Homo sapiens: one gene and its partner. The protein of the gene in region 2 purifies or fractionates together with the protein of the main gene of each other region. This does not show direct contact. Each region holds a gene or a part of one and is shown on either strand. Other genes may lie near its edges.

The links.
Region 1: the proteins of UBXN8 (region 2) and SLC38A1 purify together in Homo sapiens (affinity purification with mass spectrometry, with the first as the bait; one large-scale study listed by BioGRID). This does not show direct contact.

The regions. Positions count from the first base shown.
Region 1 is NC_000012.12:46,266,050-46,270,643, forward strand, and holds the start of SLC38A1 (sodium-coupled neutral amino acid symporter 1), read right to left. Parts: upstream 2,995-4,594; 5' UTR 2,477-2,994; exon of another isoform or gene 2,406-2,476; intron 1,939-2,405; exon of another isoform or gene 1,176-1,938; intron 468-1,175; exon of another isoform or gene 397-467; intron 1-396. UniProt on the Homo sapiens protein: Symporter that cotransports short-chain neutral amino acids and sodium ions from the extraccellular to the intracellular side of the cell membrane. The transport is elctrogenic, pH dependent and driven by the Na(+) electrochemical gradient.
Region 2 is NC_000008.11:30,747,151-30,750,958, reverse strand, and holds part of UBXN8 (UBX domain-containing protein 8), read right to left. Parts: intron 1-3,808. UniProt on the Homo sapiens protein: Involved in endoplasmic reticulum-associated degradation (ERAD) for misfolded lumenal proteins, possibly by tethering VCP to the endoplasmic reticulum membrane. May play a role in reproduction.

The DNA of each region.
Region 1 (4,594 bases), on a different chromosome or scaffold from region 2:
CTCATTTTCAAACTTAGGAGAAGGGGAACAGATGAGATATAGAACGGAAGGGATGGCCAATAATATCACAAAGAGATGAACAAGATGGCCTGATCAAGGTCTCAAGGTCTCGATCCAACAAGTATTTATTAAGCAGGTACTATGTGCTGGACATTAGAGGAACAATGAGTAAAATCGGTTTTTGTCCACAAGCATCACCCAGAGTAAAGAAAAGAGTAGCAATAGTCAGATATCAGAAACATGGTGCTCCTTTCATTAAATGGCCTTAATTCATGAAGCATCATAAAAAATATACATAAACAACATACATATAGGTTTAAAGCTCCAAAACACCTTTAAAATCTATTCATCTATCTGTTCAATTATATTACAGTCAAAGAAGAGTGCAATAAGTACTTGCTGTTCCTTCTTCCTGTTCCTTCCGCTGGCCTTCTTCCCTCAATTATGGAAATAGCTGATCCCTTTTCATCATTCGGGTCTGAGGACAAATGTTATACCCTCACACCGCCCCTCCCGGTGAGTCACTCTATTTCAAGCATCCTCCCCCATCACATGATCCTGTTTTATTTCTTCATTGCACTAAGAATACCTGAAATGTATATGCCTACATTTATATAGTCTATTTCCCCCTGAGAACGGAAGCTTCATAGAAGGTGAAACAAATCTTGTTAGTTGCTGCCAGTCGCACAGTAAGCCCTCTGTAGAAAATGTTTATTGGCCACATTTTTTTAAAAAGCGAATAAACCTCAAGATTAAGACCTCAAACCAAACTATTCCAGTTTCCAATTGCTTACAGCGACATACTGAGAAATCGAGTGACTCTCAAGAGAAAGGCCATTTTGAGGCTGGGGTCGAACCAAAATCCAGGGGGTCCACACCAGGTCAGTACCCCGGAATTGGCTGTTTTGCAAGATTTCGGGAGTACCAAATTGGCATGAGACATTTGACAACGAGGCCAGCCATGCACCGAGCTCAGGTTTTATTTCCGTTGTCCTTCTGACGTCAGAAAAAGCACGAGTTGCTGCACAGTTTCTTTTATCAAGGTGACAAATTACACCCTCGCTGGGCCCTGCATTCTGCAAACCATAAATTTATTTTCCTCCTCCCCCTTATATTGAAAAATGTAAAAACCCACTGCAGAGAGGTCAAAACCCCTTCCAAACGCAAATAAATACCGTTTTCTAGCAGAGGCGTCTTTTTTCACTTTTGCTACACACATCACCGCGGATTCGTCCGAGAAAGTACGTGATCCTGGCGGCAGTTAGGTTTCTAACAGAGAACGAGGGTTTGTACAAACCCCGGGTCCGCGCCGCAGAGCAAGACAAAGGACTCTGAATTGTAGCACCACCTTCCCCAGCCCAAGGCAGCCTGTGAAAGGCACTGGGAGCGGCGTGACGCGGGTACCGCGAAATTCCTTTTGCTGCCATATGCACTTGTGCCTTCTCTAACTACAGTTCAGCACAAACCTCAGGCGGGCGATTTGGCAGGCAAACGGTGCCCAGGCAGCCGGGTAACCTACTGGGTCCCAGTGGGTGCTGGGGAGCCCCATGCGCCAGGAGGTGGATAATTTAGGGGGCAAGGGGCTCGCACAAGGGCGAAGATGCGCTCTCCTCCCGGCACCGACCCACGCGTTTAAAGGCCTCTGCGGCAACGTTTAGGGACGCGAACTAGGTGCCGGGGGTTGGGGAGGAGGTGGGACTGGAAGCGAGAGCAGTCTGCGCCCAAGACCGCGCAAGAGGTGGCCTTTTGTTCGCTGGCTCCAGCACATCCCGGCTCTCGAAAAAACACTACCTCTGTCCCCTGCCACCCTCTGCATTTTAGAAAATCCTCTTCAGGGCAGGAAAGGACAGTGAGTCACTGCAAGCATCCTTTAGTAATTTCTCCCCGCGCCCTCCTACTTCCCCGCGTTACAGAGGGGCAGAGCACCAGGAAGGACGGCAAACATGCCCCGGTTTAGTGGTGGTCCGCGGCCGCTACCCAGCCGGCCGCACGCAGCACCCCCCGGACATCACACGATCTCCTCTGGGCCTTGCGGACACAGGAAATTTTCACCAAAGGCCGGGGATTCAAACACTCCCAGAACACGGTCGCGCCCTCGGGTCAGCTGCGCTCTCCCTCCAGACGTGCGTGGTTCCTGGCTCTCGTAAAAATGGAACCAGATCTGGTACCACACTCTGCCACAGCCACAGGAAAACACACCAAAGTCACAGGAAAACAAACCAAAAAGTAAGCCACAGCCCACGCAAAGGTGAACTCGGGGGCCCTGGCGCTTCCTCCCGCTGCCGCGTGCGTTCGGGAAGCACAGGAGACCTGGACTTTTCCTCTCCTAAAAGCAACATCCGAAAGCATCGGGCACAGCCGAGCTCTCTCTGCTTTCACGCCCGCAGAGATGATTTCTACGTTACCTCCTCCTCCGACATCTAAATCTCCCCTTGCCGCTCGCCCAGCCCTCCCCGGGAACGGATAATCACCTTACCTCCGGAAATAAAGGGAAAGGTGGCAAAAGGCGATGTGGAGGTGTCCGCCCTTCCGGGGTTTTTACCCTCGGCAGTTTGATGTCCTTTGTGTCAAGGTCTGGCTGCGGAGGCCGGGAAAATGTGGCCCCCGTCAGTAAGGGTTGGGCAGGGAGCTTGGCGTGGCCTGGCGGATTTCGGAGGAAGGTGAAGGGCGGAGGCTCCTGGCGACCTTCTGGCGGAGTGGCGTGGCCGCCCCAGTCCGCGCTCGCCTGGCTCTCCTCCTTTCCGGGCCGATTGCATCAGAATCTCCCCTCACCACCAACCCCCACTCACACTCTGCTCGCCGGCCTCGCACTTACATCGACATGCACCGGCGCTGAGGGTCACGAATCGGAGTCATTCTCCTACTGGGGGACGCGTGGCCCTTCCGCAACCATGGCTTGTGATGGTTTAACGCGGACAGGCCATTCCTCCCCGTCCCGCGCGCGGTCTCCTCCCCTCCTGTGCGCCCGCTCTTTAACCAAAGCTGCGTGTCAGTGAGCCGTGCCGGTCACATGGTGTCACTGCTGGCGGCCGCACCTTGCTGCCTCCCTCTTGCAGCTCTCTGACGATGCAGCGACCGCGGCTGGCGGAGATTGAGCAACGGGGAAAGGGTGAGGGAGGGGTTGCGGGGCGCGCGTGTGCCCGGCGCACTGAAGCTGGCACCGGGAGCAGAGGCTGCGCGCCGCCCTGGCACCTGCCCCTCTCCCTCCCGGGGCCCGGCGGCGTGTTCGGAACCCAGCTGCGGCTGCAGCTGGAGAATGAGAGCCCTTAGGGATGGGGGTGGGGCGGCTAAAGGGGCACCGGCGGAGGACAGGAGGGCTGTGCGTTCCGCTGGGGCCTGCATTTTGGGTACGCCAGAGCCCCGCCGGGGCCGAAGGAGCGAGGGAGTTGCATTGTGGGAAGGGCGCAGCATGAGGATGGCCGCGGGAGTGGCAGGTCCGAGCGCAGCCCGGAGAGCCGCGGGCAGCGCCTGGGACTACGGGCAGCGTTGGAGCGGAGGGCTGGCCCTGGGCACAGCCTGCAGATGGCCCGGGTTGGCGGGAAGGGGACCGAAGTGGCAGGGGCGGCGGGGAGCTCGGGCACCTTTAAAAACCCTTTGTCCCTAACCTGAAGCGGGAGGCACCTCCCCTCTTCCGGATCCAGCACCCGCAGACCTGGTCAGCCCTTCCTGAGATCTGCCCTGTGGAGCTCTGCTTTGGGGACTGGGTGTGAGGTGAACCAGAAGGATTTGCTGAGCACCGAGAAAGCACCGGCCTAGGCGCAAAGAGCCGGGGGCCAGCTCTTGGAGGGCCTGGAGACCCCACGTGGTCCCGACCGAAGGACCTGGTGCGTCCAGGTTAACGGAGCTGGGGCGCTCCAAGTCCGGGGGACGAGGGAGCGGCATGGAGGGGAGCAGGGGCAACTGGGCCTGGTTCCCTTTTTTCCCGCTTACTCTTTGTTTCAGACACAGCCCCCTTTCACTGGCTGGGCACTTGCTTGCAGAGGAGTTGTGTCTTAAAATGGCGACAGGAAATCCCACCTGCGCCTCAGCCAATTAGACTGTCATAGCGCGAATTTGCAGGGTGGAAACGCGAGCTTTTTATTGATAGGGAAGGTTCAGTCTCCTGTTCATGGTTCATCAAAACAGGAAAGGGAAGGTGAATCATAATTCAAAAATTAACTACCTGGAGCGTTTCAAGTAGACAGTAGTCATTGTATTTGGGTGAATTTTGCTTTTTCATCACCACTGGAAAAGCAAGATGATAACCAAATTTGAAACTCATCACGGACTAAACTTCTTATTCCCTTCGAATGGCAGTAAATGGCCTTTATTAGTTCAACAGTGGCTTCCTGAGAATCCTATTTAGAAGGCATGCTCTTGAGAAATACTGAAAAACAGAAAGTTCAGAGCAAACCAAAAGGGCAAACACATGGGCAGCCTAGCTCAGACAGACCTGCATTCAATTTCTTCCTCTGACACTTACTGCTTCCCTCATCTGCTTTACTTTTGTCCTAATCCTGTTTTCTAAATTTGTGAAAAAGGGGAGAAGAGTACACACAACATAGCAATATTCTATAGGTCATCAAAAAGTTGGTTCTTTCTACCTTACTAGAGG
Region 2 (3,808 bases):
CAATGTAAAGGCTCTATAAATAGTTGCTATACTTTATTGTTTATGGACTAACGACGGGGAAAAAAGCCTGTAGATGTTCGGGACAGACAGACAAACATCCATTTATCCATTTTTTTCCTGAATATTTTCTTTTTTTTTTTCCTTCTTTTTTTAAGAGACAGGGTGTTGCTCTTCTTTTTTTTTTTTGAGACAGAGTCTCGCTCTGTTGCCCAGGCTGGAGTGCAGTGGCATGATCTCGGCTCACTGCAAGCTCTGCCTCCCAGGTTCATGCCATTCTCCTGCTTCAGCCTCCCGAGTAGCTGGGACTACAGGTGCCTGCCACCACGCCTGGCTAATTTTTTGTATTTTTTAGTAGAGACGGGGTTTCACCATGTTAGCCAGGATGGTCCCGATCTCCTGACCTCATGATCCGCCCGCCTCAGCCTGCCAAAGTTCTGGGATTACAAGCGTGAGCCACCGTGCCCGGCCGACAGGGTGTTGCTCTTCTTGGTCTTGCTCTGCCACCCAGGCTGCTGGAGTGCAATGGTGAGACCACGGCTCACTGCAGCCTCAACCTCCTGGGGCTCAAGGAGGGCCTCCTGCCTTAGTGCCCCCAAGTAGCTGGGACTACAGGCACGTACCACCACACCCGGCTAATTTCTGTATTTTTTGTAGAGATGGGGTCTCGCCATGTTGTCCAGGCTGGTCTTGAGCTCCTGAACACGGGCAATCTGCTCGCCTCGGCCTCCCAAGGTCCTGGGATTGTAGGTGTGAGCCACCACACCCAGCCCTTTCTGAATAGTCTCAATCCACAGGTGCTTAAATGCTCAATGTGGAACTCAGGGATACAGAGGGTTTACTGTACTCTCCTTTGGGCATTAAAAAACTCATGATGGTTGTCATTTCCAGAACAAATGTACAGAGCATAATTCTAGAATAAACACTATCTTGGGAATACAGTTACAATTAGAGCGATCAGCTACACTATATTATGAATATCAGTAATGTATAAGTTGTAGTTTCCCATATAGAGAAAATTACATAACTAGAAATAAAACTGAAAATATCATCGTGTTGGTCAGGTGTGGTGGCTCACACCTGTAATCCCAGCACTTTGGGAGGCCGAGGCAGGCAGATCAGAGGTCAGGAGATCCAGACCATCCTGGCTATCACGGTGAAACCCTGTCTCTAATAAAAATACAAAAAATTAGCTGGGCGCGGTGGCGGGTACCTGTAGTCCCAGCTACTTGGGAGGCTGAGGCAGGAAAATGTCATGAACCTGTGAGGCAGAGCTTGCAGTGAGCCAAGATCGTGCCATGGCACTCCAGCCTGGGCGACAGAGAGAGACTCTGTCTCAAAAAAAAAAAAAAAGAAAAAAAGAAAATATCGTGTCAAATTCTAGTTCTATGATAATCTCACTGAAACACCAAATTCTTATTTCTCACAAATTGTGCAACTGTGTGCTTCTTTATTTCTTGACATTTAGTCACTTGTAAGTAAAATTACGATTTACATGCTTGCGGAGGAAAAAGTAAAAATATAGTATTTGGTCTATTTATTTATTTATTTATTTTATTTTTTTTTTTTGAGACGGAGCCTCAGTCTGTTGCTCAGGCTGGAGTGCAGTGGCGCAATCTTGGCTCACTGCAACCTCTGCCTCCTGGGTTCCAGCTATTCTCCTGCCTCAGCCTCCTGGGTAGCTGGGACTACAGGCATGCACCACCATGCCTGGCTAGTTTTGTATTTTCAGTAGAGATGGGGTTTCACCACGTTGGACAGGCTGGTCTCAAACTCCTGACCTCAGGTGATCCGCTGGCCTCAGCCTCCCAAAGTGCTGGGATTACAGGCATGAGCCACCGCACCCAGCCAGTATTTGGTGTTATATTAAGAACCAAAGTGAAAATTATTTGAGCAGAAATCTAACTACCTACTTTGCATAATACAATTTGGCAAATGTTGAGGGACAGGAAACAAAGCTGGGTTAAAAATGATTTCCATCCTCTTGGAATTTTTACTCGTTTTGTGTTTTTAATTTTCAAAAGATAAATGGCAGAGATACAGAGGAATCCAACGTGATCAAGGCTGGTAATTAGTCAATTAACTAAAACTTAAAGAAGGAATCAGAAAAACATATATATAGGCCGGGCGAGATGGCTCATGCCTGTAATCCCAGCACTTTGGGAGGCCAAGGCGGGTGGATCACCTGAGGTCAGGACTTTAAGACCAACCTGGCCAACACGGTGAAACCTCCATCTCTACCAAAATACAAAAATTAGCCAGGCATGATGGTGGGTGCCTGTAATACCAGACACTTGGGAGGCTGAGGCAGGAGAATCACTTGAACCTGGGAGGTAGAGGATGCAGTGAGCAGAGATCATGCCATTGCACTCTAGCCTGGGCAACAGAGTGAAACTCTGTCTCAAAAAAAAAGAAAAAAACATATATAGACTTAAATGTTTTATTTTAAACTGAAAACAGATAGATGTATATTCTTGCCTTTTTTTTTTTTTTCTTTCAGATGGCCTCTCACTCTCTTGCCCAGGCTGGAGTGCAGCAGTTGATAACAGCTCACTGCAGCCACAACCTCCAGGGCTCAAGCAGTCGTCCCATGTCAGCCTCCCAAGTAGCTGGGACCACAGATGTGGGCCATCAGATAATATATATATATTTTTTCCAAATGATCCTCCTTTCTTGGGCATGGTGGTTCATGCCTGTAGTCCCAGCTACTCAGGAGGCTGAGGCAGGAGAATCACTTGAACCCAGAAGGCGGAAGTTGCAGTGAGCTGAGACTGCACCACTGCGCTCCAGCCTGGGTGACAGAGTGAGACTCCATCTCAAAAAAAAAAAGAAAAAAAATTTAGCTTAAGTACAAGTAAAATGTATTGACAATAAAGGTTTTTACACAGTAGAAAAAGACAAGGCTAGTTTTTCAATATATGTCTGAATATTAGTACAGGCATAACCAGCCCTGCTGCTGGTATAAAGTATGATGTGTAAATCAGACTTAAATGCTGTTAAGAAATAATTATTGGAAGCTCACTATCAAGAATCCAAAGGTAGCAAAAAAAAAAAAAAAAAAAAAAAAGAAAAAATATATATTAAAAAAAGAAAACTTGGCCTCCCAAAGTGCTGGGATTACAGGCATGAGCCACCTTGCTTGGCCCAATATTCTTTAAAAACCCTAGCAATTTAAAGTTGCTTAGAGAAGAAGTATGACTTTAAAAAAAAAATCACGGCTCCTCCAACTTGCCAGTATTAACTGTTGATTCAGGTGTTATTCAATACAACACATAATTTAATCTATTTTATCTCTGGCCAATACAAAAGTAGTTTAATATCTAGAGTATTGGTATGTAAAGAAACCATTGAGGCCAGGCGCAGTGGCTCACGTCTATAATCCCAGCACTTTGAGAAGCTGAGGTGAGTGGATCACTTGAACTCAGGAGTTTGTAACCAGCCTGGGCAACATGGTGAAACCCCGTCTCTACTAAAAATACAAACATTAGCCAGGCACAGTGGTGCACACCAGTAATCCCAGCTAGTTGGGAGGCTGAGGCAGGATAATGGCTTGGACCTGGGAGGCGGAGGTTGCAGTGAGCAGAGATTGTGCCACTGCACTCCTGCGTGGGCAACAGAGTAAGACTCTGTCTCAAAAAAAAAAAAAAAAAAAAACACCACTGAGGTGTGGGATTTATGTTCCATACTACTGCTGTTCGTTCTAACAAGCAATTTGCAAACATCACATGAGAATATGAAAGAACTATATTTGTGTGTATACCTTTAAAGAAAAAAAATTTTAAGGTTTTTTCGTTTTTGTTTTTGTTTTGAG